Linked DNA regions of Homo sapiens. The protein of the gene in region 3 interacts with the protein of the main gene of each other region in a pairwise test. Each region holds a gene or a part of one and is shown on either strand. Other genes may lie near its edges.

Region 1 (7,445 bases), on a different chromosome or scaffold from region 3:
GCGGTGCTGTGTGTCCTCCCCAAACCTGCTACTCCCCAGGATTCTCACCATCCAGTCCTCGCAGGCCCAGACCCTGGCGACGTCCTCTGCCCCAACCCATTCCTCCTGCCCCAAGTCACTGTACTCCTTCCCCTTTGGCCCTGCCCTGGCCTCTGTGGGAGCCGCCAGCCACATGTGAACAGGGAGTACTGGAAAGGCAGGGAGTCCTAGCAGAGAGTCCTAGCAGAGAGGCCTCTAACAATAAAACCTGCACTGGGTTCTGAAGACTGAGTACAATAAAGCCGAACGAGCCGGGCGTGGTGGCTCAGGCCTGCAACCCCAGCACTTTGGGAGGCCGAGGCAGGCGGATCACCGAGCCCAAGAGTTCGAAGCCAGCCTGGGCAAAAAAAAAAAAAAAAAGGAATTTCATCTGCTTTTTTTACTCTTTTAACATGGTGTCTAGAAAATTTAGAATTCCACGTGGGGCTTGTGTTGAATTTGATGGATGATGCCACCCTGCTCCGTCGCCCAGCCATCCCGTCAAGAGTGTCCTGCACAAGGCCCAGGGGGTTCCTTCAGCACCCGGAGCTGATGCTACTCCTCGCCATAGTCCTCAGGGCAGGCCCTGGAGGCTCTAGGTGTTCTGGCCATCCCCAGCTCCTGGGCCATCCTGCCTCCACGGCCTTCCAGAGCCTCTGAGGCCCGAGGCCTTCAGAAAACGTGGTCCCTGACCTTGATGACTTGTGCTCCATTCCCCACCAACCTTTCACTCATCCTAGGGTGGAAGAAACTTTCCCTCGCCCATAGATCCAGCCAGTCTGCTCCATAGGGGGTCCCACACTGTCTGAGTGGCCACCTTCCCAGCACACTTCCTTCCAGAGGGAACTGGCTGGTTCTATGACTGAGGCCTCAGAGAGTCGGGGCTGAAATGGTGCTGGCGCTGCTCTCTGTGCTGGGAAATCCACACGGCTTTTCCTACAAGACTGTTCTGGCAGGTCCTCTGTTGTCCCTGATCCCCCAGGGTGCATCAGATGACTTCAGGAGCCCATCCGATGCCCTGGGCTTCCTCCATGAGCATTCATGTCACCTGAGCTTGTGACAGCTGTAACCTGGCTGCCTCCTGCATCAGACTGTGAATTCCCCCAAGGTCAGGGATTTGTGTTTGCAGGACAGGTCGGCCCTAAGCAGACAATGCAGGGTGCGTCTCCTTACTGGGTGAGAAGAGCGAGGGCAGGGGGGCTGGGTCCTTGCCCTGACTCTGTCTCAAACCTGCTGTGTGACCTTAGATGGCTCACTGGCCCTCTCTGTGCCTCATTTTCTTCCCCATTAACCAGCGTGGTTGAGCCAGAGCTGCTGGGCTGCGGAAGACGCTCTTCCGGGAGGCAGTAAGCACACCGCCACTGCACGGATTCAGGCACAGCTGTGGTCCAGCCCACCAGGGTGAAGGGAGCAGGGAGTCTGGAGTCTGAATGAAATTTGCAGGCCTTTTATGACTCACGATCATTGATGTTGGTGTTTGCTGAGCACCTATTCAGTGCTGGGATTCCACACCTGGCATCTCACCTATCTGACTCACTCAGGGAGTTCAAAGCCCCAAGGGAAGGAAGAGGTTTATCCACCACCTCCCAGAAGCCACGCAAGGACCCAAGATGGGATCAACCTTCTCATCCCACCCTTTCACCTACACTATGAGACAGGAGCTTTAGTTACAGTTCACCCCATTTTACAGTTGCAAACTCAGGCCCAGGGGCAGTCAGCATCTTGAAGGGCCACAACTGGAAGAGGCAGGGCTGGGACCTGGACTCAGAAAGTCTAGATCCGGGGCCTGTTCTAAATCCTGACCGCCATCCTGCCTGCCTTTAGGAGGGCAGATATTCTAATCCAGATGGAAAAGTGAGGCTCAGAGAGCTTAGGACACTGGCAAAAAAGCACACAGCTACACAGGGCACAAGTGGGGCTGAAACTGTGAGGCTCAGAGAGCTTAGGACACTGGCAAAAAAGCACACAGCTACACAGGGCACAAGTGGGGCTGAAACTGCTGACTGCCCAGCCCCAAAACCCCACTGAACTGGGGGGTACCCGGTGTCTCAAACACACCCATGTCCTTCCCAGCTGATGAGGGAGGAAACTGAGGCTCTAAGCAAGAAATGGCTGGTCCAAAGTCAACTGCCTCGCCGTGCTAGGCCTGGGGCTCTCACTTCCACGGGCCTCCAGCCCCTAATGACATGCGGAGAAGAGGGGGAGAGGAGGTCCCGGAAGAGAACGTCAGGATGAACTCTCCGTGTACTCAATCTTGGAGTAGCCACGGGATTAAAGAGTGAAATAGGGTGAGTGAGTTGTGAGGGCTCCCCCAACTCAGGAGACATGAGCAAAAAGGACAGGGCGACTTCCACAGACCTCTTTGCCAAGGTCCAGGGGCACCCTGTAATGCTACCCAACAGGAGAGTAGCCAAGACCTGGGGGTCCTCCTTACCCTTCAGCTTCTAGAGGAGGTCCTGTTTCCTCCAAGGAGCTGAGAGATGGAGGAAGAACCCGCCCCGATAGACGAGTTTCGTGTAAGATCAGGGAGAGATTAGAGGAAAGTGAGACGTGTTCCCCACAGGAGGGGGAGCACGATGTGGCTGTCCTCTTTGGATGCAGGGAGGAGGGAAAAGAGCTAAGGAGGAGAGGGGTGGAACCACCCCTCCTGTCGAAATTTTAGTACCCCACACCCCAAGATGTGAGGAACCTGAGCATGAACGCGGTAGCCATGGGGTGAGCGCCTGGGGCCACGCTCAGCTGCCCCGAGACCTCCCAACCTCGCCCGGGGTCCAGGGAGGACCCACTGGTCTAGGAAGAAAACAGGAAATCCCGCCCAGACGGAGGCCAGGACCGGAAGTCCCGCCTTTGGACGGGTGAGGGGCGCCCCGAGGCCCCCCAAACCATCCCCCGACCCCGTGGACGTGGTCCACGGCCCAGGTAGAGATCCCAGGCGCTCTGGAACCGCAAGGTGAGACTGTCTACGATTTGCCTCAGGTCTGACAGGACGATTCCCACGGGCGACCCCCTTCCAGCGCTCAGCAAAGGATCGCTGGCAGACCTCTGCCCTCTGATCTGTGCAGGCCATACCCCTCCCGTGAGCCGCTCGCCCTCCCAGCGCCCCGCTGCCTCAGGACGGCCAAATCCTCCCCACACCGCGGTTAACAACGCCGCCTCCACTCACGTGCCCGTAGCCAGCATGGCCGGCCCGGCGCCGTCACCGCCCTCAAAAGACATGGCGGCGCCTTGCGTCACGTCCGCGCAGTTGCCCCGCCTCCTCTCCGCACACTCCGCCTCCCTTATCGGGGCCGCCCGAGATCAAGATGGCGGCCACAGGGGCTTCATCCGAACCAGTTGACAAGGGTGACGACAGCTTGCCCCTAAGAAAAATGGCCCCGCCTAGAGCATTTCCATTTGCCCCCAACAATAATGGCCGTCCTCATATGCTCAATCATGACCACAGTAAACGAAGGCAAGCGACCTGACGTCCCTGACCCACAATAAACTTCTTCGACAAAAGTAGAGGAAATCGGTGCTCGTTAACAACATGGCAGCCAACCGGGCTTAATCAGCCCATAGTGTATATTGGCTCTCCCTCCCTCCAACCTGCTCCCATTCGGCACGAAGGCTGGCAAAGATCCAACACGGCAGCATTTCTTGCTTCGGTTTGCCAGGCTTCAAAATGGCGGCTCAGCCCGCTTTCTCGCGACGGTGACTCAGAAATTCGTCCGGGGCCGCTTCGTTTCTGGGGGCACTGACGGCTTCATCCCGTTATCCTGAGTCCCTCAGTGCCTCTTGTGGTGTACAGCTCCTCTCACCTCCTCTTCTCTTATCCGTTCGGCTCTTCCAGCTGTCGCGCCCCGCAGAGAGATGGGACAGCCCCGTATTAACATGGCCTTAGCTGACCGGCTTAGGCCATGCCCTCGAGCAAAATGGTACCTCCTTGGCTTCAATTCCAGTATACAATATGGAGAAGGAAGTGGGCGTTTCAAGGCGTGCTTGCCCCAGGTGGTGCAGCTCTCAGACCCTCCCACTTGTTTACTTCGTGGCGAGAGGGCGAACACTGCGCCTGCGCACTCTCCGTAGCCGGATCCACCTTCAGCGTCTGCGCCACGTGACTCCGATCCACCCTCGAGGTTCCAGTGGAATAACCCCCTTCTGAAAAATGGTTTCACCCGCTCCTTCTCTAGAACGGGTCGGGCCGCTACCACTGTCCGGCCCGGAGGGGAACTGTTTTCTCCGGAAGTGACAACACGCTGACTAGGAAAAGGAGGAGGCGGGGCAGTGGGGCCTTCGGCGGCGACTATGGAAGGAGCCGGCTACAGGGTAAGCACTGAGGACGCATTCCCTCGCTTCAGTGTATGCGAAACGCCCCGTCTAGTGATCAGCTCTTCTCTCAGGCCTTGGCTCTCGAGAATCCGGCACGGCCTTGGCAAACACCGATCTCTTATAAACGCGCCGTCACCCTCCCGTCCACCGCCCCAGGGAAGAACCTCCCATGGCCCCGCCCCCCCGGCTCAGGCGACTCCTTGAGCCCTGCCCCCTGTGGAACGCACGTCAGCATCCGAACGCGGGCTGGACCATTCTCCCCGCCTTGGTCCCGGGGCAATGGCCCTCCCGGCCCCGCCCCCTGAGGGTGGCTCCTCCCTGGGCCCGTCCCTATTGGCTCCCCAGGCTGGTCCCCTCGCTTGGGCCCCAGCCCTCGCTGGTTCCCCCCAACTCAGGTGGTGTTTGAGAAGGGCGGAGTGTACCTGCACACCAGCGCTAAGAAGTATCAGGACCGAGACTCTCTCATCGCTGGTGTCATCCGTGTCGTGGAAAAGGTGCGCTGGGAGGGAGCAGGGCTCGGACCCGCTCCGAGCGGGATGCAGGCGGTCTGGGATGCAGGCGGCAGCTGTAGGAGTTTGGTCTGGCGGTCAGCAGTGGGACCTGAAGAAGGCTGGGTGTGGGAACTGGAATGAGGGGCGGGACTTTGAAAGGCTGAGGGTAGAAACTGGGAAAGTTTGGAAATTTGCAACGGAAAGTTTTGGGAATGTGGTTTGGGGAGCGCCTCTAACCCCGCCTCCCTCCTTACCCTAGGACAATGACGTCCTCCTGCACTGGGCTCCTGTAGAGGAGGCTGGAGATTCCACCCAAATCCTCTTCTCCAAGAAGGTAGGCTCCACCCGCTTTGCCCTTCTCCACTCGCTTTTTTTCTAGGTCCGTGCTGTTGTAAGTCATTTGAGGGACCTGCGTACAATCCCAGACCTACTCGTGGGGCATGTGTGACCCTGTTTAGGCTTGGGTACTCTGCCTCTCCTTTTGCTCCTCTCTGTGAAATGGGCAGAGGATGCCCATTCAAGGAAAAAGAGCAGGGAGCATAAGACGCACGGTCGTGGGGACGGCTGACCCCTCTCTCCCTTTGCTTCTTGGGAGATCCCTGCCAGGGTGCAAGATGTGGATTCGAGTTGCTTGAAGGGAAATGGCATTTCCTCTGGTGCCAGAGGACAGGGCCTGACAGCCTACTCACCCACTTCGTCACTGCTCCCGGCTTTCCCTTCGTTATGTCTCCTGGGACTTCCCATGGCTGGACCCCGTCCTGGGCAATTCTGAGACCCAGAGATAAGTCAGATCCAGACCCACCTAAGCCCTGACCCTTACTCACTTTTTGAGAAACTGATAGATGAGGTCGAAAACGCTAGGAAGTGTTGGAACTTTTTGCACCCAGACAGTCTGATTCCAGATCCCCAACGCTTCCTGGGAGAGCAGACATTTGAGCTGGGACTCCCAGGATATGAAAGGACAAGAAGGTATTTCAGGGACAGCAGAACAACCTTCAAGGCACACGGAGAAGTTGGATGCCTCTGTAGGGGGGTTCTTTAGTGGGGAATGAGACCTCCATTGGAGCTGATGAGTTCCACCCAGGGGCCGGAAGTCAGTCGGCACCCACAGAGCTAGTGACGAGACACTGGAAGGCTGAGCTGACCACCTGCGCTGCCCCAGGGCAGGAGGATGAAGATGAAGATGAAGATGACTCTCCACCTTGCTCCACAGCCAAACACAGCCAAGGCACCAGGAAGTTGCGTTACATCACTTCCGCTTTCCAGGTTGGCCTGCATCTGGTTGGTAGAATTTGTCCTGTGTCCTGGATTCCAGCTGCAAAGAAACCTGGGAAATGTAGTGTGTTTTTTTTGTTGTTGTTATTGTTTTTTTTTTTTTTTTTTGACAGTCTCACTGTCTCAAAAGAGTGCAAAGTGGTATCTTATTGTGGTTTTGGTTTGTATTTACCTGGTGAGTACAACAGTGTCCATTGAGCACTCCGCAGCCTGACTGCAGAGCCACCTGCTGTGTAGCATGGACCTCCCCATGCAGTGGGAGACATGGGGTCAAGTCCTGGCTCGCTCTCTGGCTGCATTGGGTGACCCTGAGCAAGTGCTGTACTTTCTTTTTTCTTTTTTTTTTTTTTTTTTTAATGAGACAGAATTTGCTCTTGTTGCCCAGGCTGGAGTGCAATGGCGCCATCTCAGCTCACTGCAACCTCCGCCTCCCAGGTTCAAGCGATTTTCCTTTCTCACCCTCCCGAGTAGCTGGGATTACAGGCATGCGCCACCATGCCTGGCTAATTTTTTTGTATTTTTTTAGTAGAAACGAGGTTTCTCCATATTGGTCAGGCTGGTCTCGAACTCCCGACCTCAGGTGATCCGCCCGCCTCAGCCTCCCAAAGTGCTGGGATTACAGGCGTGAGCCACCGCACCCGGCCTGCTGTACCTTCTTTGTGCCTCAGTTTCCCTCTTTATTCAATGGGGCTATCTTCCAGGGTAGCCTCGAGGCTAAGATCTGAATCCATGGCCCCTTACTGTCTGCTCCTTTCCTCTCCTAAGGACTCCAGTGGGGGTGACTCATGTGCTTCTGAGGAGGAACCAACCTTTGACCCCGGCTATGAACCTGACTGGGCTGTCATCAGCACTGTGCGGCCACAGCTCTGCCACTCAGAGCCCACGAGAGGTAGGCTGAGGTGGCGGCCCTTGAGAAGCACGTGTGGGCCAGGTAGGACACATCTTGCCCTCAGTGGTCACGGTCCCAAGGGCTTTGCTGCCCACAATCAAGAAGGCCACCAGTCACCACCTTCCAGTCCCAGGAGCATGGAAGTGAATGGGAAGACAGGACTGTCCCAGCCCAGGTCAACATGGCCAGTGTCTCTGAGACTGCAGCCTTGCTCATCCTACTGGGCTCCCGGATTGGCTGTGGGTGCTCCCACACCAGGCCTGCCCCTGAGGTTCGAGGCTGGTGGGGTGACAGATGCAGCCAGTTAGGGTGATTTGCACCATCCTGGGGTCACACAGGGTGCAGGGGACATCCAGAGAAGGCACGTGACCCCTCTGGGGAATGGAGATTCCTTCCAGGAAGAGGTGATGCTGGAGCTTGGCACTGAGGGACTCTTGGGAGTTTTCTCTTCTGGCAGAGAGAGC
Region 2 (8,225 bases), on a different chromosome or scaffold from region 3:
TGAGAAAAATAAAAGCAATCAGAATAGAACGCCTTCATTCCTCCCATTTAATCTACCAACCTACTGTTCTTGTATCACTATGAACGTACTGTCCTTGCTTCTATCTAAGGCCATCCCTATCCCTTGTGATTTGTTTTTTGCATTTTTTTTTAAAGAGTCTCACTCTGTCACCCAGGCTGGAGTGCAGTGGTGCAATCTTGGCTTACTGCAACCTCTGCCTCCTGGGTTCAAGCGATTATCTTGCCTCAGCCTCCTAAGTAGCTGGGACTACAGGTGCTCACACGCATGCTCGACTAATTTTTGTATTTTCAGGAGAGACAGGGTTTCACCATGGTGGTCTTGAACTCCTGGCCTCAAGTGATCGACTTGCCTCAGCCTCCCAAGCCTATCACTTGTGATTTGGATTCTACTCCTTTTTGTCTGTTCAAGGACTTTGTTCTTGCAATTGTCACCTCTCTCTCATATCTTTAGCTTTTCCCCCACTCTACTGGATCATTCTCATCAGCATATAAATAATCTAAGAAATCCAATCTCTTTCAGACTTTTATGTTTTCTTTAAGCCAGTTGGAGTTAGGTTTCTGTGATTTGCCACTTAAAAAGTCTTGACTAATACAGGACATAGAGACAGGTGTGTATGGAAACAACTTGTGATTGGTAATGCCATTCTCATATCATAGGGAAGTAAACTGAAGCTCAGAAAGATTAAATACCTTGCCTAAAGTCTACAACTTTTCTATTTTAAAACAAGCAAACAAACCAAAAACCTCCCTTTTTTTAAATCATCCCCTGCAGTCACTTCCCCTTCAACCACTTCCCTTTATTGAAAAACCTCTTGAAAGAATTGTCTTTGTATTCCCACCATTGCTCTTGAACAGACACCATCTTGCTTTCAAATAAAATTGCTCTTATCAAAGTCTCTTACCAAATTCACCGAATGACCTTCCTATTGGCAAATTTAAAGGTCAATTTCTGGTCTTTATTCTTACTTGATCTCTTAGCTGCATTTGACATTGTGGATCAATTCATTTTTGAAACCTTTTGTCCCCTGGCTTTTAGTATAGTAGTGCCTCCAAGTTTCCCATTCATAGGGCTTCTAGGGTGGTCTATTAGTCTCCTGATATTCCTCCTACACCATTAGCTGCTGGATCTTGCTTGGGCCTCAATCCACCAAGCTTTCCTCTTTCCTTTCTGTATTAGATTCCTAAGAAATCTCATCTACTCTTTTGGTTTAAATAACGTCCCCATGTTGGTGAACTCATGGATTTATACCTTCAGCCCCAGTCTCCTCCTAAACTTGAGTGGTATATACAAGTACCCACATGAAACCTCCACTTGATTGCCTAACGGGCATCTCAATCACAACAGCCTGAACAGCACTATTGATGCGCCACCACCAACAACCTGCTTCTCCCCAGGGTTTTCTGTCTCAGTAAATCACAGGACCATTTGCCCAATGGCTTTCCCACTTTCTCTCACATACTACATCCAGCATATCCTGTCAGTTCTACTTTCAAAATATGTTCAGACTTCAACTACCTCCCAACATTTCCATACCCTCGACTTTGACCTATATCTCTCAAATCTCTTGCTTGAAGGATTGCAAAAGCCTCTTCAGAACCCAGAGATAGTCTTTAAAAATGTAAATCAGACCCTGTCATTCAGTTGCTCATATTTACAGTGGCTTCCTGCCATATCAAGAGCAACACCCAAAGTCCTTCCCCATGGACTCAGCGTCCTCTGTGAGCCAGTGATTGGCATCTCTTCAACCTCATCTCCTCCCACTCTTTCCCGCCTCGCTGTCCTTAGCCACATTGGCCTTTCTGCTCCTCCTCAAAGAGGAGCAAGCCTCAGGGCCCTCACACTTGTTCTTTCCTTCGGGCTGGGCTTCCCTGATTCAATTCTCAGCTCAACAGTTGCACACCTCAAAGAATCCTTTCCACTTCCCATGATCCTCTATTCCTTTACTAAAGGTTATCATACACTTATCAACTTGTATTTGTTTCTTATTATTTCCTCCATTAGAATATAAACTCCATTAGGGCAAGGACTACTTTTTGCTTCAGCCTATATCCTCAGCTTCTAGAGAAGAGTCTAACACACAGTCGGTGCTACCTAGTGAATGATTAACGGCAAAAGCAGCATTGTGCTATCAAATGAAATGAGATTCATGAAAACATTTTTTAAACTCTGGAGTATCAATCATGTATAAGTTATAATAACACATTATAGTTTAGTAAGTATTTATCAAGCAACTGCTTTTGTGCTAGGTAATGTACTAGGCACTCTAATTACAGAAATAAATAAGACCAAGTTCCTACCCATTCTAGCTGGAAGGTTGGAGGTGGAAACAAAGAGAGGTAAGTGTTATTCTAGAATTATCTCGGCAAGTGCTACTGAAGCACACTCAAGGAAAGGAAAATGTATTCTGCTTGGGGGGACAGGAGTAAATGAAGACTTCATCAAAAAAGTCACATTAAACTGGGATTTGATGATTGTGGTTGGGTTTGTCAGACAAGAGGCAGGAGAAAGGGCTTGACTGGCAGAGGAAAGAATCTCAATGCGTGTGCCCTATCATGCAGTTTGCTAAGCATCTCCCAAAACAGCTGCCTTCTTCACTCCTGCCTTTCTCTCTTACTCCTGAAGCCCCAGGCCTTCTCTGACCTGGCCATCCTGGGTCCTTTTTTTGTGTCTCACTGTGTCCTTTTCCCCACTGGCCTTCAATGGGTCACAGGTTACACCTCCATATAATTCATCCTCTCTCTCTTCAGACATCACGACAACTCCAGACTGTCCATCTTTATACTTCCTGTCACCAACTTCACAGCTGACCAGGGATTTCAGAGACAGTGGGGTGGATTTCTAAAATCCACCTGCATAATAGTTTAATAGGAACAGATATATACTCTTTAATGAAACATTTTTAAATGTTCATGTTGACATAAAAATTCCTCTTATGTAGTTTCTCACAGATTATCAAAGGAGAGGATATTTGCCTTCAGAATTTAAATGAGAATCAAACAAGTGGGAGACAGTGCTTAACACTGAGCAGTCTATATTTAATACATGAATGAATGATTGGATGAATTAACAAATGAGATAAATTAAAACCATTTATGCATGTGTTGTATTTCCAGATCTACTTTTGTAACTTAGTTGTTTTGAATTTGGGATAGATTTTCCCATAGAAACAATGTTGTAAACAGTTCTTAAGTTCCAAGAAATCCCACTAAGGCTGTTTAGCCCATAATGTAGCAAGAAAATGCAGAAAAGTAATGGGATAGCTTAAACAATTTTTGAATGTTGAATACTAGTATTTGAAGAAAAGTAACTTTAATTAGAAGATGAGGTGGTACATGAAAAATGCTGTGATTCCCAAGGGGCTGTCTGAGCCCTTTCAAGGGTTCTGAGGGCACTAACTTCTTGTAATGCATATTTTCAAATTAAAATGTGCACATTTATTTCCCTGGGTATAATACTATCCTTGTACTGTTCTCGCAATCAGGATGAAGGAAGAGCATGAGTCTGGCCGTGAGGAATTAGATTTCAGTGAGAAGAGAGTCTGGGACACTGGATGAGGTAAAATGAACTGAATGGCAGGCGGTATAAAATAGAGGAAAGGGAAGAAATATGGTGTGAGCATGATTCCACCTATAGGGAAGACAAGAGTATGGTGGAGGCAAGAAAGAATAGGGAAGAAAGAATACTGTGGAGGAAAATATGGTAGATGGAGGCCATAAAATGGTTCAGGTCAGGTTGGCGCTGGCCAGACCAAGGGAATAATGGCCTTGGAGTTTTCAAGTGATCAGGCAGCATGCTACTATACTAGACTGTCAGAGGTGTCAGCAATGCAGATTGGGTCTTGATATACCTAAGAGGTCTCTGCAGAATGCAGAATTTATATATTACCATATCCCCTCTGTTGATTTTGGTGACACACATACTGCATGATTTTTTTTTTTTTTTTTGAGACGGAGTCTTGCTCTGTTGCCCAGGCTGGAGTGCAGTGGTGCCCTCTCGGCTCACTGAAACCTCTGCCTCCCGGGTTCAAGTGATTCTTCTGCCTCAGCCTCCCGAGTAGCTGGGATTACAGGCGCATGCCACCACGCCCGGCTAATTTTTGTATTTTTAGTAGAGACGGGGTTTCAGCATCTTGGCCAGACTGGTCTTGAACTCCTGACCTCGTGATCCACCCATCTCGGCCTCCCAAAGTGCTGGGATTACAGGCGTGAACCACCACGCCCGGCCAGTCTTATTAACTTCTAAAGAAGGAACTTCAGAAACCCTTGCCTTCCGTGTAAAAAGGTGTCACGTTCCACTTGCCAGTCTTCTTCCATCCCTCTCCCTTCCTTCTTTTCTTCCTCTGGCGTTTACTAACTGACCCTGGGCAGACCACTTATTTCTCTGGGTCCCATTTTCTCATCTCTAAATGACAACACTGGAACCTAGATTATCTAGCCCTTCCAATTCTAAACATTTGATTATGAAATTCTCCAAAATCACAAAACATAAACCAGGAGGACGAGACCTAATTATGACCACATCAAATAGCTGTGGTTTCCAAAGTGGTTATTTCTGATTATCACAGACGAGTCAGTTATCCAGCTTTTCTCCTCTTTTCTTTGTTCCCATAGCATAGGCGACCTCTTTGCTCTCAGAGCTGTTTCAGGGGCGTCGAAATTTATCTAGAAAAAGTGGTGTGGGAAGTGTGGGTTTTTCCTTCCATTAAAAGAAAAAATCTGTTCGCTCCTTCAACTCAAAAGGCTTTCTGGGTAGCCATAAGCAGATAAAACCTTATCTTTCTACCCTCGAGTTCCTCTTTTGGACTTCATATGCATTGACTTGACGGACCTTCAGCACAGAGAACAAACACCCGAAGGGTTCCCTCAGCAACGGGACTGGCACCCAGAGCCCCCCGCTCCCCGCGAGCCGGCGAGCGCAGGCGGAAGCGCGGGCGCCACATTTCCGGTGTCGGGACCGGAGCTCACCACACTTCCGGTTTCCCTGCCGGGCGCGCCACACTTCCTGTTGATCCGGCTCGGCCGGGGGCTGGGCCGGCGGGCAGGCGGCGGCGGCCACTGGCCAGGCGTGGACGCGCGCGGGGCCGCCGCGGGCACGGAGTGGCCGCCGCGTCGCCTGAGCCCAGAGCCGGGGAGTGCTCTCGGCCGCCGCGTCTCCTGCCCTCTGTCCTTCCAACCCAGCCCTCGGCTGAGCCGCGCCGCACCATGCCCGCCGTGGACAAGCTCCTGCTAGAGGAGGCGTTGCAGGACAGCCCCCAGGTACCTCCCGCCGCTCCGGTGCCCCTCGCCCGCAGGGGTGAGGCCGAGGAGGCCCCTCCAGCCCCGGAGTGGAGGCCGCGCCCCCGGCCGGGCAGCCGCGGGAGTGCGCCCGGCCCCCTCGCGGCGCCTCCCACCGGGTTCTCTCGGGCTGAGGAGGGGGCGGGCCGGGCCCTGAGTCCTGAGCCGGGGCAGAGCTGTGGAACAGGGGAGAGAGCCCCGCGGCCGGAGTCTTGATGTCGTGACCCCCCTGCAAGCTCAGCTGCAACTGAGTCTGCGAGATCTAAACTTTGATTCCATGTAGTAGCTGAGTGCCTCAGGAAAACCACCTTATTGTGCCTTAGTTTTGTCGTCTGTAAAATAGGAATAATAATTGTGCCTGCTTCATAGGGTTGTTAGGAGAAGTCAATGAGAAATACCTGTAAAGTTGTCAGCAGACAATGTCCGGTACAGATAATGAGTCAGTCTTATTACTGCTACTCCTAATGATGTGATGAGACTTGTGCCAGCCAGAATGAGAGGCAGAGGGCCTGGATCTCTTTTCCGGCGGTACCAGGCCTCCTTTTGGCACCGTTTTCCCATTAGTGAAGAGAAAAATACAGTACCTGCCCCATTTGTCGCACAAGGGAACTTCATTAGCACACTCGAGATGAGAGTCAAGTCCTTTGAGCTCTGCAGATGAAAACTGGTGTGTAAATATAGCAAATGAGTGCAGGATGACATTAGTTCATAATTCAGCACATCTTTCCCCAGGGGTCTTTTGTTCTCCTTTGTTTAACATTTCTCCAGCTTCGTACCTACACTCCTGGTTCAGCATCCCGGGTTTATTTAAATAAGTGCCTTTATTTCCTAGTGTCTCAACTCTTGAAAACTTAGAATAAGATTAACCTATTTTCGTTTCACACTTTCCCCTCTCTTTTGGGGTTCCTTCCCTTTTTCTTCTAAGTGAATAATACTTCCCAGGATGATCCTTGTATGGATTTACCTACATCGACAGTTCAGAATAAGTCCGAAGGGCTGTATGCATAGGTGTCTTTTGTTCATTTTTTGTGATCCTCCTAGTGTAGATAAGTAAGGAACTGGAAGCAAGCTGTGTGTGTGTTTTTTGTTTGTTTGTTTTGTTTTTTGGTAAGTTTGCATCCTCTGGACGACTTTTTCAAGGCCTCCCTTTTTTATATGGCTGTAGACTCCTGGCATTTTAATCAGACTAAAGCCCTTGGTAGAAGGCATTTTGTCCATGTTCATATCTGTTGTGTGGAATCTGAAGATAGCAATGTGAGATTTTAAATGATCACTTTGAACAAGGATCTCTGTTTGCCTTGCACTTATGGAAACTGAGGTGCACAGAAATATCCTGCTTTTCTAACCTACATGGTGATGCCTAAGCCAGGTTACAGTGATTATACTAACTGATTCTTGATGTTGTCCTCACAAACAGATCATATTCTTAATTTCCAGCTCTAACATAAAGGAATATACACTGTTTGTGAGTGGCTTAAAGGATTTGCCCAGCTGTGAGGAAGTAGACAGGACTGTAGAGCAAGTCAGGAGACCTGGGTTCTAATTCTGGCTCTCACGCTCACTTAGGATGTGATGTGGGTGAGTCTCTTCATCTCCACCCTGTAGCTGGCTCAGTTTCCTAATCTACAGAACATCTACAGAATGAGAGACAGGGAGGGAGCAGGTGATCTTCAAGGTGCTTTAGAGTTAACATTGTCATATCTACATGGTGTATAACTTTGAACTTGTATGTGGCAGAGGAGGTTTAGAGATATTATCATTCTTATTTAATATGTTCCTTTTAATATAGGAAGTTTATTTGTCATTGCTTTTGAGACTTGGCCATCACCCTTAAGAGGGCTCTTGATGGTGCTGTTGTGCAGAATGGAAGCTGACTTTAAGAAGGTCTTTAATGATCATCAGAGCATATTTATATACTACTCTCTTGTATGTGACCTGTGCCTAATGTAGCTTTACTCCCAAGGTGACTCCTAGACTTGGAACTGGAAGGAATCTAATCCATCCCCTTCATTTTATGTGCAAAGCATAAAAACAATAGCAAATGCCTGTTTCATGGATTTTATGTGCCAGGGACTCTTCTAAATGCTTTACATATATTAACTCACTCAATCCTCCCAATAGTCTTGAAGTACATTCTCTATTTAAATAACTAAGGAGCAGAGAAGTAATTTGCTTAGAATTATACACCATAAAGTGACAGAGCCAGGACTGGAACCCAGGCAACTTGCCTGTACTAGGGATATGGTTCAAGTTAGCCCAGCTATCTAGCACCGGGCTTTTCTGTCATCAGTGACCTAAAATGTTTCACTAAAAGGAAAAGATCCTAATAAACCATCTATTGTGTGTTTCTTCTAGTTTTATGAAGAGTAATTTTGAGAGTTGCTTCAGTAATGTGATTGCACAGGATGAATTAAATGAACACCAAAGCTTTTGTAATTGAACTGAGTGACCCAGGAAGAGCTGAATAGCAGTTAACTGACCTTAGACACATCTATTCATGGACTCCTTTTTAGTTTGCAGTGCTGCACGATGCATTGTAAAACTAGTCTGTGTGCATACACATGCGTTATTTCTGCTTACCTCTCATATGTGGGAAGCTGAACATTTTAGGGATTAAGAAATCTGCCTCCATTGTTGTTTAGAAGCCTCTGCTCCTTGCCTGGCACTACTGGCTGTTGGGAATGTGAAGATAAATAAGAGTGACTACCCTTGACTGGTTCACAGTTTGTTCCAGAGACAGATAATGAGGCAACAGTTCCAGTACAGTGTGAATCCTGCTGCGATAGGAACACAAATGCAGCTTTGAGCTCCTGCAGCTTGTACTTCTTCAGGGGCTTATTCTCTTGTCCTGTAAGTAGTACACTTTTGAGGTAAGGTGAAGACAACAGCACTGTTGCTTGCTCGGTTTGTGTTTTGTTTGTTTCTTTTGCG
Region 3 (7,299 bases):
ACTAAAAATACAAAATTAGCCGGGCATGGTGGCACATGCCTGTAATCGCAGCTACTCGGGAGGCTGAGGCAGGAGAATCGCTTGAATCCGGGAGGCGGAGGTTGCAGTGAGCCAAGATCGCACCACTGCACTCCAGCCTGGGCGACAGTGAGACTCTGTCTCAAAATAAAAAAAAGAGACAGGTTATATAGGAATACAGATATTCCAATTTCTCTACAAAATGTAGCACTGGGCACAGTGGTTCATGCCTATAATCCCAGCCCTTTGGGAGGCCGAGGTGGGAGGATCGCTTGAGTCCATGAGTTTGAGATCCACCTGAGCAACATAGCGAGACCCTATCTCTATAAAAAAAATATATATATATATATTTTTTTATAGACGGAGTCTCACTCTGTCACCCAGGCTGGAATGCAGTGGTGCAATCTCAGCTCACTACAAGCTCCGCCTCCTGGGTTCATGCCATTCTCCTGCCTCAGGCTCCCAAGTAGCTGGGACTACAGGCGCCCGCCACCACACCCGGCTAATTTTTTGTATTTTTAGTGGAGACAGGGTTTCACCATGTTAGCCAGGATGGTCTCAATCTCCTGACCTCCTGATCCGCCTGCCTCGTCCTCCCAAAGTGCTGGGATTACAAGTGTCAGCCACCGCACCCAGCCTATAAAAATATTTTTTTTTTTTTGAGACGGAGTCTCACTCTGTCGCCCAGGCTGGAGTGCAGTGGTGCAATCTCGGCTCACTGCAAACTCCGCCTCCCGGGTTCACGCCATTCTCCTGCCTCAGCCTCCCGAGTAGCTGGGACTACCGGCGCCTGCCACCACGCCCAGCTAATTTTTTTGTATCTTTAGTAGAGACGGGGTTTCACCATGTTAGCCAGGATGGTCTCGATCTCCTGACCTCATGATCCACCTGCCTCGGCCTCCCAAAGTGCTGGGATTATTTTGAAAAATATTTTTCAAAATATTTTTCAAATTAGCCAGGTGTAGGCTGGGCATGGTGGCTCACGCCTGTAATCCCAGCACTTTGGGAGGCCGAGGCAGGTGGATTACCTGAGGTCTGGAGTTCGAGACCAGCCTGACCAACATGGAGAAACCCCATCTCTACTAAAAATACAAACATTAGCTGGGATGGTGGTGCATGCCTGTAATCCCAGCTTCGCGGGAGGCTGAGGCAGGAGAATCGCTTGAACCTGGGAGGTGGAGGGTGCAGTGAGCCGAGATCGTGCCATTGCTCTCAAGTCTGGGCAATAAGAGTGAAACTCCACCTCAAAAATAAATAAATAAATAAATAAAAATTAGCCAGGTGTAGTGGTGAGTGCCTGTGGTTCCAGCTACTCCAGAAGCTGAGGTGGAAGGATGACTTGAATCCAGGAGTTCAAGACCAGCCTGGGCAACATAGCAAGACACCCCCCCCACCCATCTCTATACAAATTAAAAAATTAGCCAGGTGTAGTGGTGTGTGCCTGTGGTCCCAGCTACTCTGGAAGCTGAGGTGGGAGGATCTCTTGAGCCCAGGAGGTTGAGGCTGCAGTGAGCAGTGATCACACCACTGCACTCCAGCCTGGGTGACAGAGTGAGACCCTGCTCAAACAAAACAAAACAAAAAAAACCTCAGGACATCAGGCTACCGTGGGCCAACATTCCATCTGGCAATAACTGGCAATCAGCTGGGCTGGGTGGCCACTGTCCTCTTTAGATGGGATCTGCTCTGCACTCTACTTCGCAGTCACCACGTTTCTTGATCATCTCCCGACACCCAGCTAGCTTCCCTTGTTTGAAATTTTTGTTTGGTCTCTGTGGGTATTTGAGTTCTCAAAACTTGAGTGTCCATCAGAACTACCTGAGATCCTATTAAAACGCAGATTCTGCCAGGCGCGGAGGCTCAAAAAAATAAAAAAATAAAAAGCAGATTCCTGGGCCTCATCCAATTTGGAATGTCCGGGGTGGAGCCCAGGGGTTGAGTTTGCAACCTCTGCCTTACCTAACAGTGTGTTCCCAGGTCCCTGTGCCCAACAGGTGCTTTTTGGGCCCAGTAATGTCTGCTTCTACTCCTAGGCGTGGGTCTGTCAACATCTCTGTTTCTGTCTCTCTGCAGGCTGTCTCTCAAGGTGGTCTCTTCTGCTGCTAGCAACTCAAAAATCCCAACAGCACTCCCTATCCTTTCCCTGACCCCAGACCGCTGCCAAGCCTGTTCTCCCCCATTACAACATGGTCTCACTCAGGGCCTGGACTGCTCCAAAACTCGCCCAGGTCTCCAGCTCTCCTCTACCACCCAACACCCTGGGCTCACTTTTGGATAGGAAATAAACTCTTTATTTTTGTAGTTATTGGCTCTGGGTGTTTCTGGGGGTTACTCTGAGAGCCCCAGGGCTTTGGAGGAGCCAACACAGCAATCACTCCCCACCCTCACCTTCGTTGTACCCCAGGGCCCAGTTGCTATCTCTAGGAAGGGCAGAGGCACCAGCCAATCTACTTGGCACCACATTCACACCACCAGGGGCCCCAGGGTTGAGGAAGAAACTTAATTAGTCACTATGGGCCTATTATACCCCCTTCTCTCCCCTGCACCCCAGTCACAGCCATGTATGCACACAGTATGTGGGAAGGACAGAGTCCTGGCTTTGGCCCACCTCCAGCCTTGGAAAGGTGGGCCTAGGGGACTACCCATCCCTCCTGTATAAGGAACTGTTCCAGAACTGGGTATGGCAAGGGGGCTGGGGGAAGAGCTTGTCACCAGCCAGAACCTGCTAGGAATCCCACTCTGCCCCATCCCCTCTGTCCTCCCAACAAGCCCTCTCTTCCCTCTTCCTTTTCACTTCTCATGAACACTGGCGCGGAAGTGGGGATTGTGTGTTATGGGTGTAAGAAAGAGAGACGCCCTGATGACCAGATGGAACTAGATGTGGGCACAGTTTTGTGGCAGGTTGTCCAAGACAGGTAAATTCTCCAGCTGAGGCTCCAGGATATGCCTGGTGTTGGCGTTATAGGCACAATGGCCACAGCTGTCTCCGGTGAGCTTTGATTCCACACAGGTTTTCAGTAGTGTCCCTTGAGGATGAGATGCAAAAGAAGAGGAGGTACTGGTTTGTGTTGAGAGGTAAGGGTGGGAGGAATCAGGAGCGGGCCCAGTCCATATTGAGAGGAGCAGAAAAAACAAATATTCCTGATCCATAGAGGGGGAGAGTGCAGAGTGGGGGTGGTTCTAGTCTTTATTTACGGATGGAGAGGGCCGAGGCAGAGGTTGTCCAGCTCTGTATTCCGCGTCAGAGAGAAGAGCTGACCCTGGCTAGGAGCAGGGGAAGGCAGAGGCAGAGATGGTCTTTGTGCCGGCCCCCGCACACACCAAGTAGGAGGTGGTGGCAGAAGCTCTCCCTTTGATCTCACCCAGCATCCTGCAGAGAACTCTTCCTGCAGCGCTTTCCTCACCTTCCCAATCACAGACGCCCCTGGCAATCGGGCGGACAGTGCAGACAAGGGCTTCTCCAGATCAGCGAGTTCACAGGACTGAGGCCTCGCGTGCATATTCATTCGCACCACGTTTTTTCTTTCCCAATTCTGCACACACAATCCTCTGCCTTCTTCCAACGCTCCACCACCCGCCTTCCCTCGGGGCGTCCGGAACCGGCGGTGACGCGGATGGCAGGGTTAGCCTTAAAAAGTTCCCGGCCGTAGGCTGGGCGCGGTGGCTCAGGCCTGTAATCTCAGCACTTTGAGAGGCCGAAGAGGGCGGATCACCTGAGGTCAGGAGTTCGAGACCAGCCTGGCCAACATGGCGAAACCCCCGTCTCTACTAAAAAATACAAAAATTAGTCGGGCGTGGTGGTGCGTGCCTATAATCCAGCTCCTCGGGAGGCTGAGGCAGGAGAATCGCTTGAACCCGGGAGGCAGAGGTTGCAGTGAGATCGCACCACTGCACTCCAGCCTGGGCGACAGAGTAAGACTCCGTCTCAAAAAAAAAAAAAAAGTTCCGGCCGGGCTCCGCCTCGCAGTCAGCCGGCTCCACCCTAAGCCCAAGTCCCAGGCAGCCACTGACTCCTCCCAGCGCTGCGAACTACAAGTCCCGCGATCCCTCGCGCGCTCCCTACCGCCACTCCCGCGTTCCTACCGGCGCCGCTGGGTAGGTCGGCCAAGAGTGCCTCCCATTGGTCTCCGCACTGTCAATCACCTGGGAGTATTGAGGGGCGGGGCGGAGGTGGAGATCCGGATCCGGAGCGGCTGAAAGGCGGAAGTGGAGGCCGGAGCCTGGGACACCGCCGGCGGGGAGAGAAGCGGATCCCGTCCGAGCCCCGGCCCCAAGTAACGCCGCCGCCCCGGAGCCGCCGTGAGTATGCTTGTCCCAGGACCTGGTGTCTCGCCTGCGTTGAAGCATCTCCAGGGCAGCCCTTCCTCCCGCCCAGCCCCAGTTTAGGGGGATACTGACCCCTCCCCCGACCCGTAGCCCCCTCTTGAGGGGCTCCCCAGGCGTCGGGCCATAGGAGGTGGGGAGCTTCTTTCCTTAGCTTACCTGCCTTTGGTGAGCCTTAAGGAAACCGCTATGACTGTCCTCTGGCCTGTCCATTCTAGTTGTGGGAGAGAGGTACCCTAAGTTCCGCTCCCCCTGCTTCCAGAATCGGAGGATCTTTGCTAGGTGTGAAGGAACCTGTCCCTCTTCTCTTTTAGAAGTGACAGGGAGTGCTGTCTGTCGCCGTTTTCCTTCCTCCTGTCCCACAAAACCAGTTGTCCCCTCTAGCCCTAGAGGAATATCTCGATTTCCTTTGGGGGAGGGGGGTCGTCTGGGTGAGACCGTTCCACACGCACAGAAGTGTGTGTGCGCTCCCGCAACTCCTTACTTCCTCTCTTTCCTCAAGCCAGAGAACCAACCAGGACCTCAGCTGAGTTTAAAGTCACTTACTAGAAATGAGCTGTTTTCCTGTTTTGCCCCTTCTGTCTCCCAGCCCTGTCCTCTAGTTATGTTGTTCTTTGAGTGTCTCTCTCTTTCTGCCTCTGAAGAATTTAGCTGAGGTTTGCTCAATCCTAGCTACAGATCACAGATCAGGGTGGATGTGCCCATTCATTATCTTCTTTCCCCTCCCCCCTTGCTCCAGGCTCAGCTCTGTCCTCCCAGAGCACGTGAGTGGTTTCCCAGCCGCCTCAAAGGGACTGCTTTTCTTGGGACTGCTGTCCGTGTGTCTATAGGGAGGAGAATAAGACCCAAAATGAGGAGTCTGGAATTGAAGGGCCATCTCTTTCCCACTCCCAAACACACACACATACACCTCCCTGAGCAACAGGTCCACACCACGCCAGGGTCTGTCTGCAATCCCTTCAGGGCTTGGACTTATTACTGAGGACTAAGTCAAGATCACAATGGCAGTTCTGGATTTTTAATTGTAGCCTGAGGAATTCCGATACATGCCAGAAAGTGCAGGTTCCCTCAACCATATTGACTGATCCTTGTCTGTTGCTTGGGGCTTAGGTGTGTGAAATAGCTGCTGTCTCAGACCAAGCTTTGTTATGTGGCCAAAGTACAGGCCGGAGACTGTACCTTAACGAGGAGTAGCCTGGCTCTGAGGCCATGACTGACCCTTGCTATCTACAGTGGAGGAAGGGACGGAAAGCCGTGCAGTTTGTGGGAACTTCTGTAGCTCTTCAGTGTTCTGGGCTACCTTTACCACCCTCGCTTGCCACTTAAAAGTGCTGTGTTTTTTGGCCTTGAGGTGTGTTTGAGGGCTTCTGGACAGTGGCTAGTATCTGATTCCTACAGTCTTTTGAGTAGAGCTAGGATGTACTTTCTTCACTTTTTTGTTTGTTTGTTTTTGAGATGGAGTCTTGCTCTGTCGCCCAGGCTGGAGTGCAGTGGCGTGATCTTGGCTCACTGCAACCTCTGCCTCCTGGGTTCAAGCAGTTCTCTTGCCTCAGCCTCCTGAGTAGCTGGGATTAACAGGCGCCTGCCACCACACCCGGCTAATTTTTGTATTTTTAGTAGAGATGGGGTTTCGCCATGTTGGCCGGGCTGGTCTCGAACTCCTGACTTCAGGTGATCCACCCGCCTCAGCCTCCCAAAGTGCTGAGATTACAGGTGTGAACCACCGTGCCCGGCCTACTTATTTCACTTTTTATCGGACAACAGAAGAAGCCTTCCTTATTAGGGTCAACAGCTGGATCACAGGCTCTGTATCTGTGTGGGTTCCTTTGGGGTTCATTGGAGACTTCTTCAACCAACCTAGTTTCTCTGATCTGGTCAGCCTGGGCATCTGAGGGGCAGGGCCAGAGAGGCCTGACTGCTCACTGGCCATTGGTCTCTGACCAGACTTAGGTCTTCAGGAGTAGACCGCAGTTTGTCACTCTTCAGGAGTGCTGGGATGAGGCCGACCAGCCTTCTGAGGAGACCTTCTTTTCTTTGTCTGGACATGCTCTCCCAGCTCTGACTCTGAAACGACTTTTTTTTTTTTTTTGGAGACAGAGCCTTGTTTTGTCACCCAGGCTGGAGTGCAGTGGCACAATCTTGGCTCACTGCAGCCTCTGCCTCCCGAGATCAAGGGATTCTCCTGCCTCAGCCTCCTGAGTAGCTGAGATTACAGCCATGCACCACCACGCCCAGCTAATTTTTGTATTTTTAGTAGAGATGGGGTCTCACCATGTTGGCCAGGCTGGTCTCGAACTCCTGACCTCAGATGATCCACCCACCTCAGCCTCCCAAAGTGCTAGGATTACAGGCATGAGCCACTGCACCCAACCTGAAACGACTTTGAAGGGGAAGCTCTGCCATTTAGAGAGACGAGGCAGGCCCCAGTGCTTTGGGTCGTTATGCAGCCACTTCTGGCACCTAGAAATTATAGAGTCCAAGCAGAGGTCTGACTCTGCCTGGCAGAGAGAGCGATGGCTCCGTGTGCGACAGAACCCCTCCTTTCTGATGCTGTTCCTCCCCTGCCCTCTTGCCTCTCACAATTAGAGGGCTGTTAAACTGTAGAGGGACAGTAACACTAATTTTTAAAAATCATTTTAAGGTTGCAAAATTATTTTCATACATATTCCTCATAGGTGCCTTGGGAAATAGTGGGGCTTGTTTCCCCACTTTGTTTTTAATTTTTATTATTACTTTTTTTTTTTTGAGTAAGATAAGGCAAGTGTCCCTGCTTTAGAAGGGATGCAGAAGGAACTTAAGTAGTTTGCCTAAGATCGATCATACATTTAGAAAGTAGTAGAGCTGGGGCTTGGATTTGGGGTCAGATGTGACCTGATCTAACAGTGGGCCCTTCTTCGGCCTGGTTTGTTCGTTAAATGAATGAACATGCAGACTGAGTGCGCCACGGCACAAGGGCAG

Evidence for each region. The genes of interacting proteins can lie anywhere in the genome.
Region 1: the proteins of RAB5C (region 3) and TBC1D17 interact in a two-hybrid assay, tested with the Homo sapiens proteins (one study listed by BioGRID).
Region 2: the proteins of RAB5C (region 3) and APPL2 interact in binary tests that used the Homo sapiens proteins (3 or more experiments, as listed by UniProt).

Annotation. Positions count from the first base shown.
Region 1 is NC_000019.10:49,873,422-49,880,866, forward strand, and holds the start of TBC1D17 (TBC1 domain family member 17), read left to right. Parts: upstream 1-4,280; 5' UTR 4,281-4,302; coding exon 4,303-4,323; intron 4,324-4,721; coding exon 4,722-4,820; exon of another isoform or gene 4,821-4,935; intron 4,936-5,076; coding exon 5,077-5,151; intron 5,152-6,857; coding exon 6,858-6,981; intron 6,982-7,445. Other genes in the region: AKT1S1 (proline-rich AKT1 substrate 1), read right to left, coding at 3,182-3,234. UniProt on the Homo sapiens protein: Probable RAB GTPase-activating protein that inhibits RAB8A/B function. Reduces Rab8 recruitment to tubules emanating from the endocytic recycling compartment (ERC) and inhibits Rab8-mediated endocytic trafficking, such as that of transferrin receptor (TfR).
Region 2 is NC_000012.12:105,233,010-105,241,234, reverse strand, and holds the start of APPL2 (DCC-interacting protein 13-beta), read left to right. Parts: upstream 1-5,060; 5' UTR 5,061-5,222; coding exon 5,223-5,276; exon of another isoform or gene 5,277-8,225. UniProt on the Homo sapiens protein: Multifunctional adapter protein that binds to various membrane receptors, nuclear factors and signaling proteins to regulate many processes, such as cell proliferation, immune response, endosomal trafficking and cell metabolism.
Region 3 is NC_000017.11:42,151,911-42,159,209, reverse strand, and holds the start of RAB5C (ras-related protein Rab-5C), read left to right. Parts: upstream 1-4,220; 5' UTR 4,221-4,317; intron 4,318-4,500; exon of another isoform or gene 4,501-4,810; intron 4,811-7,299. UniProt on the Homo sapiens protein: The small GTPases Rab are key regulators of intracellular membrane trafficking, from the formation of transport vesicles to their fusion with membranes.